Linked DNA regions of Homo sapiens. The protein of the gene in region 2 interacts with the protein of the main gene of each other region in a pairwise test. Each region holds a gene or a part of one and is shown on either strand. Other genes may lie near its edges.

Evidence for each region. Proteins that work in one complex are often made in the same cells at the same time.
Region 1: the proteins of SUGP1 (region 2) and RBM10 interact in a two-hybrid assay, tested with the Homo sapiens proteins (one large-scale study listed by BioGRID and IntAct).
Region 3: the proteins of SUGP1 (region 2) and RBM17 interact in binary tests that used the Homo sapiens proteins (3 or more experiments, as listed by UniProt).

What each region holds. Positions count from the first base shown.
Region 1 is NC_000023.11:47,148,221-47,151,720, reverse strand, and holds part of RBM10 (RNA-binding protein 10), read right to left. Parts: intron 1-3,500. UniProt on the Homo sapiens protein: Binds to ssRNA containing the consensus sequence 5'-AGGUAA-3'. May be involved in post-transcriptional processing, most probably in mRNA splicing. Binds to RNA homopolymers, with a preference for poly(G) and poly(U) and little for poly(A).
Region 2 is NC_000019.10:19,275,533-19,279,021, forward strand, and holds the end of SUGP1 (SURP and G-patch domain-containing protein 1), read right to left. Parts: intron 3,265-3,489; coding exon 3,158-3,264; intron 2,348-3,157; coding exon 2,202-2,347; intron 1,545-2,201; coding exon 1,415-1,544; intron 1,143-1,414; coding exon 1,116-1,142; 3' UTR 501-1,115; downstream 1-500.
Region 3 is NC_000010.11:6,092,034-6,095,533, forward strand, and holds part of RBM17 (splicing factor 45), read left to right. Parts: intron 1-3,500. UniProt on the Homo sapiens protein: Splice factor that binds to the single-stranded 3'AG at the exon/intron border and promotes its utilization in the second catalytic step. Involved in the regulation of alternative splicing and the utilization of cryptic splice sites.

The DNA of each region.
Region 1 (3,500 bases), on a different chromosome or scaffold from region 2:
TGCTGAGGATGGCTACACAGAAGGGGCTGCCTGTCAGCCCTAGATTAATTGCTCTTCTGCAGACTGCCTTTATGGGAAAGAAAAGTAAACTATCTTGTCTAAGCCATTATCCTTTGGACTTTCTGCCACAACCAGCCAAAGTAAATCTTAATTTGTGTACCCAGTATCACTTATACTATTTAATATGGTACTAAAAGTCCTGGACAATACTATAAATGAAGAAAAATAAATAAGTGACAGGATAGATTTGCATACAATATGACCAACTACTTAGAAAGAACATCAGAATCAACAATGAAGTATTAGAAATAATAAGGGCATACAGCAGGGGTAACTTACAGAAATCAACAGCTTTCCTCTACCCCAGCAAATACCAGCATGAAAAATATTTTTTAAAAAATAAGATAATGGCCTGTAATCCCAGAACTTTGGGAGGCCAAGGTGGGTGGATTGCTGGAGCTCAGGAGTTCAAGATCAGCCTGGACAACATGGTGAAACTCCGTCTCTACAAAAAATTAGCTGGGCGTGGTGGTGCGTGCCTGTAGTCCTAGCTACTTGGAAGGCTGAGGTAGGAAGATCACTTGAGCCTGTGGAGGTCGCCACTGCACTCCAGCCTGGGTGACAGAGCAAGACCAAGTCTCGAGAAAAAAAAAAAAAGATAATGAAAGTGACTGAAGTACCTAGGGATTACTTTAACAAAGAATACATAAGACCTGTATTTCCATTTATGAAAATGAAAGCTTTTTATGCTCTTTACATAAATTTCAAAATATTCTCTACAAAGGTCTTAGATGAAATGACTACTTACAAAGATAATTTTCCCCAAATTAATAGAGAAGTTCAGTGTAACATCGATCAAAATTCTTGTTGTTTTTGAGGGACTTTGATAACTTTTGATATATAATAAAGCCCCATAAATGATTAAACCAGCTTTGAAAAATAAGTGCAAAGGAGCTACTAAGACATTCTATAAAGCCATAATAATAAAAACAGTAAGGTGCTGGCACAAGAATGTGCAAATAGACCAATGGAACAAATCACATCACTCAAGACGGATCCATGTACATGAGGGAACCTGAAATCAGATGAGGTACCACAGATCAATAAAGAAAGAATGGACTATTTAGGAGGTGGTACTGGAAAAACTGCCTACTATATGGAAGAAAATAAAACCGGAGCCTACCGTATGCCATATTCAAGAGTGGAATCTAGATGGATTAAAGATCTGAATGCAAAAGGTAAAAACTACATTAGGCTGGGCGCAGTGGCTCACACCTGTAATCCTAGCATTTTGGGAGGCCAAGGCGGGTGGATCACCAGGTCAGGAGATCGAGACCATCCTGGCTAACACAGTGAAACCCCATCTCTACTAAAAATACAAAAAATTAGCCAGGTGTGGTGGCGGGCGCCTGTAGCACCAGCTACTCGGGAGGCTGAGGCAGGAGAATGGTGTGAACCCGGGAGGCGAAGTTTGCAGTGAGCCGAGATCGTGCCACTGCACTCCAGCATGGGTGACAGAGCGAGACTCATCTCAAAACAAACAAACAAACAAACAAAAAACACTATACATTAACAGATAAAGCAAAAAAGGTGACGTTGGGCTGGGCACGGTGGCTCACGCCTGTAATCCCAACACTTTGGGAGGCCGAGGCAGGCGGATCACCTGAGGTCAGGAGTTCGAGACCAGCCTGACCAACATGGAGAAACCCCATCTCTACTAAAAATACAAAAAATTAGCTGGGCGTGGTGGCGCATGCCTGTAATCCCAGCTACTTGGGAGGCTGAGGCAGGAGAATTGCTTGAACCTGGGAGGTGGAGGTTGTGGTGAGCCGAGATCGCGCCATTGTACTCCAGCCTGGGCAACAAGAGCGAAACTCCGTCTCAAAAAAAAAAAAAAAAAAAATGATGCTAGCACATCAAAATTAACAACAGGCATCTACTCTTGGGGGAAGTATTAAGTAAAACTCAGTAGACATGCCCCATGATGCCCTTGCCAGCAATTAGAAACAAAGTAGTAACATATACATGGCAATACAGACAGATGTTAAAAATACAGCACTGTGCCGGGTGTGGTGGCTCATGCCCATAATCCCAGCACTTTGGGAGGCCAAGATGGGAGGATCACCTGAAGTCGAGAGTTCGAGACCAGCCTGACCAGCATGGAGAAACCCCATCTCTACTAAAAATACAAAATTAGCCAGGCGTGGTGGCACATGCCTGAAATCCCAGCTATGTGGGAGGCTAAGGCAGGAGAATCGCTTGAAACCGGGAGGCAGAGGTTGTGGTCAGCCAAGACTGCGCCATTGCACTCCAGCCTGGGCAACAAGAGTGAAACTCTTTCTCAAAACAAAGAAACAAAACAAAACAAAACAAACAAACAAAAAAAAACAGCACTGTTGGCCAGTTACAGCGGCTCATGCCTTTAATCCCAGCACTTTGGGAGGCCAAGGGAGGAGAATTGCCTGAGCCCAGGAGTTTGAGACCAGCCTGGGCAACATAGAGACACCCTGTCTCAAAACAAAAAACAAAAAACAAAAAAAACCTCCCACTCTGAGTAATACAAAGTTCAGGAAACAAAACGAAGACTGTGGCACCATGCCATGTGTGTCAACTGAAAACACAGTCACTCAAAACAACACTTCATATTTTCATTTTCTATGAAAATGTATCTATATGATACATTTATGTATGTATTTATATGATACATGTATCTATATGATACATTTATATGAAAATGATCTATATGATAAATCTATGATACATTTTCTATGATATGTATCATAGAAGGATACATTTTCTATGATATGTATCATAGAAGGATACATTTTCTATGATATGTATCATAGAAGGATACATTTTCTATGATATGTATCATAGAAGGATACATTTTCTATGATATGTATCATAGAAGGATACATTTTCTATGATATGTATCATAGAAGGATACATTTTCTATGATATGTATCATAGAAGGATACATTTTCTATGATATGTATCATAGAAGGATACATTTTCTATGATATGTATCATAGAAGGATACATTTTCTATGATATGTATCATAGAAGGATACATTTTCTATGATATGTATCATAGAAGGATACATTTTCTATGATATGTATCATAGAAGGATACATATCAAACACGACAGAGCAGCTGCCCACAGAGGTGGGAATTGGGAATAAAAATGAAAAAATAAACATGACAAGAGGAAGCCTTTTGCTGACCTATGACAGAAACCTACCTTGAACTGGAAAGTATGATGAACTCAAACCTCTGCACTTGAGGGCTTTTAAAAGTCAATGGTTTTACTTGGTAATAAAGTTTGAACAAAGTATGTATGTCAGCTACTCAAATTCAGAAATGGCCACAGAGCACTTCTAGTGAATACCGTCCAAAATCAAATGTCTTTCAAAAAACATTTCTAATGAAAGCCAAGACTGAATAACACTAGGTGATGACCTTATCTCAAATTTGGGCTCACTTTTCAGAAAACAAAATA
Region 2 (3,489 bases):
GGGTGGGGGCAGATGGAAATGCAAATTCCCAGGGCCCTGCCCAACCAGCTGACTCGGCAGCTGCAGCTTAACAAGATCCCCAGGGTGACTTAGGCACAAATGTGGGGCTCTGGCCCTGGGGCAGATGTGGGGGTCTTGGCACACACTGTGGCCTGGGCTACCCTCCTGCCTCAAAACCTCCGGCTCTGAGGCCCTTCCTTCTAGGAGCTGCCTGACATGTTGGCATGGCACATCCATGCATCCATGCGGCTGTCCCCTAACGACACAAGCCCCAGGGACTCGTGTGCCTACCACACTGGTGGGACCTGAAGGGCCACAGCCAACACCTGTGTGCTGGGCCGTGCCAGCACCACCTGCCAGGAGAGCACATGGGTGTGCCCAGAAGCCACCTGCCCCCACAGGTCTGAGGGAAGGTGGGGCCCTGCCTGGAGACCCCTCCCCAACCTCCCTCTGCAGCACAGTGCTAGGCTCGGAGGTTCCTGACATTCCTTTAGCCCAGGTGTGGCCAAGTCTCCAGCTTTATTATTATTATTATTATTTGAGACAGAGTCTTGCTCTCTTGCCCAGGCTGGAGTGCAAAGGCGCAATCTTGGCTCACTGCAACCGCTTCCCAGGTTCAAGCCATTCTCCTGCCTCTGCCTCCCGAGTAGCTGAGACGACAGGTGTGCACCACCATGCCCAGCTAATTTTATATTTTTAGTAGAGACAGGATTTCACCATGTTGGCCAGGCTGGTCTTAAACTCCTGACCTCCAGTGATCCGCCCGCCTTGGCCTCTCAAAGTGCTGGGATGACAGGGGTGAGACACTGCACCTGGCCTTCCAGCTTTACTATGCTGAAAACAACTTTCTTCCTCCCCTCCAGTGCAACCCAGGCTGAGCGGGGATGGAGACTCCACAGGCCAATAAGGAGAGCCCCGAGACAGCATCTTGCATCCCGCTGCTAACAGGAGGGGCTTCCTGCAACAGGACCAGGCATCTGTGGTGGATGAGCACTGGGACTTTATTACACGGCACGGCACTCGTGACAACGGAAGGGGTGGGCAGAAATGCAGGCCGGAACATTCCACAGTCCAGGGACGGTTGGTCATTCAGAAAGTATGTATTTCCAGAACACTCAGTAGTAAGGCCGTCTGGGATTGTTCTGTGGAAGGCAAAACAGATAACAGGAGGAGGGGATTAGCACTAAAGACAGCAGTTCCTCCTGTCTGGAACCTTCCGGAGGCAGCTGAGCCCGCACCCTTGAGGTGGCAGGGCAGGCTTGGGGGACGGGTGGGGGCTTGAATGCAGGTGGGTGGTAGGGGGCTCGCTGGTGAGACCCAGCCTGGCTGGACTGAGGAAGGAAGGGAGCCTTCTGTTCCTACCACCACCCTCTCCTGTCGACTGAGCAAAGGCAGCCCAGGAGGACATGCGTACCAGGGGGTTGGGCCGGAAGCGGTAGGCCAGCATCATCCTCTTGCGGAACGCCTCATACTCGTCGTCCTCCTTGGAGAGCTCCGCCGGCCGGTCAATGCCGAAGCCAGCGCCGTCCACTGTGGTGGTGCCCCTACAGGGAGAAGAGGATGTGAGCAGGGACCTGGGGCCAGAACTCTGGCCGGGGGGCCGGGCACAGCTGGGCTCTCAACAGCACCTCCCGCGGGTGCAGGGCTGGGCTGGGACATATCTGCACAGAGAGAAGCTTGAACCTGAATGGTCAAGGAGGGGAGACCCCCGGGGCGGGCGGGGGGGGGGGGCCTAGGCCCCAGGGTCCCACACAGGAAGGAGGAGCCCACAGTGCAAGTTGTCGCAGCTCTTGGGATGGCAGGATGGTTACTCAAGGACAGCCTTGAAGGGGGCACTCGGGGCCAGGGTCACACCTGGGAGAGCTCCTGCCCATCTCTGGGAGTGGTTTCGCACTCATGGGGAATTCAAATAAGGCCCTTCACAAGGCAGACAAGGCCTGACCCATCTGTACCCTCACCCACCCCATCTGGCCTGGAGATACTCATGAGGGGACGGAAGGAGGCCCTGGGACTGGGGAGGACCCAGCCCGTATGGCCTCCTGCACTGCAGGCCTGTGCCTGACAAGGGGTGTGCAGTGGGGTGCTGTGATCATTTTGCCACAAGGGAAAAGCGATGACATAAAGGGGTGGGAATGGGGAGGCGGCAGGGGACCCACAGACCCCAAGTTCATGGCCATGCCCTCCCACAAGGCCACACTCACTTGTTCACTGGGTTCTTGATGCCCTGGCCCTCTGAGCCCAGCCCCTCGCCCTCCTTCCAGCCCATCTTCATCAGCATCTGGTAGCCGATGTTCTCCACAGTCAGCTTGAACTCCTTGTACTCTGAGTAGTCAGGCTCACGGCCCTCCTGCAAGGTGAGGAGGTAGCTGTCACCCACCAGGGCTGGGGCTGTGGTGGCCCCCAAATCCAACCTTCTGCCTTTGGTTTCAATCAGTGCTGGGACCAGTGGCCCATCTGCCTCCCTCTCACCAGATCAGACTCCTTGAGAACAAACAGACCAAGCTCCTCCTGCTTCTCAGGGTCCCCGGGGCCTTAGTGCCAAACTGTGCACCCCTGGTGGCCAAGTCAAAAGGGCAAGAGGATGAGTTACACAGGCCTTATCCACCTGAGATAAAGCAATGGTTCACTGGCAAAGAGAAGCCCCGTGTTCATGTCCTGAGAGCAATTTGTTGTACAAGGTACTAATAAGAGATGGACAACGAGGTTACCACCTCACTAATGAGGTTATCAGGCCCTGAACAGTTTTATAAAAAAACCTCAAAAAGATAATGGGGGACGTGCCATGTCAGCCCTCTCTCCTCAGGAGCCCAACAGCAGCAGAGGCAGAATGTTAAACTCTGGTTCTGGAGAGGCCAGTCCGTGGGGACTTCTGCCGGAGAAACACTTTGCCTGTAAACTGCACTTAATTGGCTCCACTGGAAGCAAAATTTCCCCCGCAGCCCCAGGAAATGTTTCTGAGGCAGCAGCTGAGCTGCTGTTTGCTAATTCCCTACACAGACGGCGCCTGTCATTAACAGATGCCTCCTGCAGCGAAAAGGCCTGGCTCCTGCTGTGATCGAGAGGGTAGCCAGGCTACTTTGGGCACCTGCAGGGTGAGGCAGCTACAGGAGGGGCTGGCATGTGGCAGAGGCTGGAGCTAGGGCCCCTCCTGGCTCACCTTCAGGGCCTTGAAGGTCTCCATAAACTTTTCCAGCTCGTCTGGAGGCAGGAAGTCTCCGATGAAGTGCTTGCCCCGGCCCATCTTTGTCAGCTGCTCGGCCCATTCTGCTCAGAGAAGCAGAAAGGTGAGAAGAGGGAGAAGCAGGAAGGAGGGGAGCAGGCCTGGTGGCTCCCAGGGCACAGGTATGAGGCTCAGTGGGAGCCTGGGGCCCCCAGGGAAGGAGGCGGCTAGGCCATGACCCCAGCCCGAGCCTCTGCCTGGTGAGGCAGCCCAGCATTTAGTGAACCCTGTGCAGCTCTCCACCCTCACGATGTCAGGACTGCTCCTTT
Region 3 (3,500 bases), on a different chromosome or scaffold from region 2:
CTGGCAGAACCATGTTTGTTATGTTTCCTAAGAAAAAATGTAGCATATATGAAACGTGGGTTGCTCAAAGGGAAGTGTTGCCACAAAAAGGAAGGAAATAGCAAATATTTTAAAGTTATAAAAACCAGCAATTTGTATTTACTTTTGATCCTGGCTTCTTATGGTATATCCAGTTGTTACAAAGTACAGCTTTTTGTTACCTGGCAGCAGACCTAATGAAATAAATGTGTTATGTTGTCTAAGTAATAATGTCAACGTTAATTAGGGTAAGTTTGGGTCTTGGCAGTCTTATTAATGTACTTATTACATTTCAGTAGTTGCGGTGGGGAGAATTAATGAACAAACTATTGTATATTAAATGCTTAATATAGCGAAAATAAAGAATACACACTTTTTAAGGAATAGATTAACTAAAACTGTAAATAAAATTAACATAAAAGGAGGAAAGCAAGGAAATAATGAGAAGAGGATTCCGGGGAAATTACATGAATGGGTTGGGGGAGTAGTATGGTTGAGTGTGGTTTCTTAGTCTAGATCCTGTCTTGTTTTGGGTGGTGAATTCACAGGTGCTTGCAGCATTATAATAATTAAACAAAAGCAGGTAATAAGTGTGTGAATGGATGAGAGTGTGATGTTACTATGATTAATCCCATTCTGTGAACTTAAAATTCAGTGAAAATGAGAAAAACGAAGAAAGCACTTTTGCATTTGCTGTGATGCAGAGATTTGATTTTATAAGCTCAATGTTACAGAAAACTAGCAGGTGCTGGTAAGATGACATCAGTTTCTAATATTTAAAGCGTTTTGCAGGTTTGAGAAGAGAAATGAGGACCTTTAAATGAGCATGAGATTTGCTGCCTGATGATTTCTGAAACTTTTGCGCAATGCAGCAAATCAACTGGAATTGTCAGTCAGCCATCTTAAATGACATGGAATCAGAGGAGATGTGTGGTCTCATAAAATCTCATTAATTCACTATTTAATTTTTGCTAAATATTGAATCTATTGATGGAAGAACTGTTGGCAGCTGAGATCTAGTACACTGCTAGATTTTTAGCCTCAAAGTTTAGAGAACTCTTTTCATCAGAGTTGACTCTTCTGGGGAGGGTGAGGAGTGTTGCCTCCCTCTCTGGGGGTTACTTCCTTCCCTTATTCCCCAGTGCTGCCTCTTTGCCTATTTATTTTTTATTTTATTTTTTTGAGACAGTCTCGCTCTATCATCCAGGCTGGAGTGCAGTGGTGCAATCTTGGCTCACTGCGACCTCCGCCTCCCGGGTTCAAGCAATTCTCCTATCTCACCCTCTTGTCTCAGCTGGGACAGGACTACAGGCGTGCAGCACCACACCTGGCTAGTTTTATATTTTTAATAGAGATGGGTTTTCACCACGTAGGCCAGGCTGGTCTCAAACTCCTGACCTCAAGTGATCCGCCCGCCTCGGTCTCCCAAAGTGCTGGGATTACAGGCATGAGCCACCGCAGCCGGCCCATTATTAGTATTTTAATAAAGCTTATTAAATGCTTGCTATATGACAGAAATTGTAGATGCAAAAATAAATAAGTGAATCTTTCCCCTCGAAGTTTAATGGGCATTTGGTTAACCCATTTCTGGTGGCACTAACGTATTCATAAACACTTTCGGTAAAGTTCTCAAGTTATAAAGAGAAATGGGTTGAGTATCCCTTACCCAAAATGCTTGGGACCAGAAGTGTTTCAGATTTCGGATATTTTTAGATTTTTAGAATGCCTGCATATACATAATGAGATACCTTGAGGATGCGACCCATGTCTAAACACAAAATTCATTTATGCTTCATATATACTTTCTACACATAGCCTGAATATGCAATATATGTCATACTTTTAATAATTTTATGCATGCAAAAAGATTTCACTCTGTTTTTGACTGTGACCCATCACATGAAGTCAAGTGTGGAATTTTTTTTTTTTTTTTTTTTTTTTGAGACAGAGTCTCACTCTGTCACACAGGCTGGAATGCAGTGGTGCAATCTTGGCTCACCGCAAGCTCTGCCTTCTGGGTTCACGCCATTCTCCCGCCTCAGCCTCCTGAGTAGCTGGGACTACAGGTGCCCGCCACCATGCCTGGCTAATTTTGTTTCTGTATTTTTAGTAGAGACGGGGTTTCACCGTGTTAGCCAGGATGGTCTCGATCTCCTGACCTCGTGATCCACCCGCCTCAGCCTCCCAAAGTGCTGGTATTAGAGGTGCGAGACACCGCACCCGGCCTGGTGTGGAATGTTCTACTTTGGGGTCATGTTGTTGCTCGGAACGTTTTAGGTTTTGAAGGATTTCAGATTTTCATACTGGAGATAGTCTGTATTGAGAAAAGCAAATATCTAGAGTTTAGTTTGAGTTGCAAACAAATTTTGATTTATCTTTGTGATTTCCCAGAAAGTCGCATTGTTTATTTCTCAGAATCTGTTAGTATTCCCTTTCCATTTTAAGAATAAAGAAAGAACAGAAGAACCTGTAGTTCAGTAGGCTTTGGTTTGCTGACCAGTTGGATGAAGAGGGCTCAAAAGATTAAACTAAGTTAGATGAAAGGTGCATGGTCATTTCTGAAGAAATGTGTTTGGGAGCCACAGTGCTAAGCTGGACACTCAGCATGGTTTTTCTGTGCTGTTGCTCTGTTTGAGTTTTCTTAGATTAAAATTTAAGGGTATGTATCTAGATGTGAACAATGAGTTTTGAGTTCTGGGTAAGCTGGAAGAAAAGTGTACAAAAGCCTCAAAAGCTGTTTGGTGCAGTGTTGTTCCTTCTGGCCAGTGATTATTGGCCAGAAATTTCTAATTGAGAGGGCTTCGCAAATGGAGTATAAACTGCAGTTTGGCCTCATTTCCTATTTAGCTGTGGGTTGGATATTGATCTTAGTCTGGGGATAGAGCAGTGAACAGAACAACCTGGATCTAGGTTTTCTTGGAGTTCAGAGTTATTAAACTAGGCTCTGAAGTGGACATCAGGGGATTCCCTCCAAGACTTTGAGGACATGGTTATATTTCATCCATATTTCTTAAGGAATGGAGTTCATTATTTTTTCTTGATTTGGCCTCAGTGCTTCAGGCCTGTCACGAGACATCCCCAAGTTCCTGAAAAAGGTCAGTTTTGCACTGAAGACATCTATCAGGAGGAGAGTCTGTCTGCATCCCGGCATCCCTTCATTCTTTTCTTTTCTTTTTTTTTTGGCGGAGTCTTTATCTGTCACCCAGGCTGGAGTGCAGTGGTGTGATCTTGGCTCACTGCAACATCCATCTCCCGGGTTCAGGCGATTATCATGCCTCACCCTCCGGAGTAGCTGGGATTACAGGCACCCACCACCACGCCCAGCTAATTTTTGTATTTTTAATAGAGACAGGTTTTCACCGTGTTGGCCAGGCTGATCTCTTAACTCCTGACCTCAAGTGATCCGCCCACCTATGCCTCCCAAAGTGCTGGGATTACAGGCGTGAGCCACCGTGCCTGACCATCCCTTCATTCTTATGTGA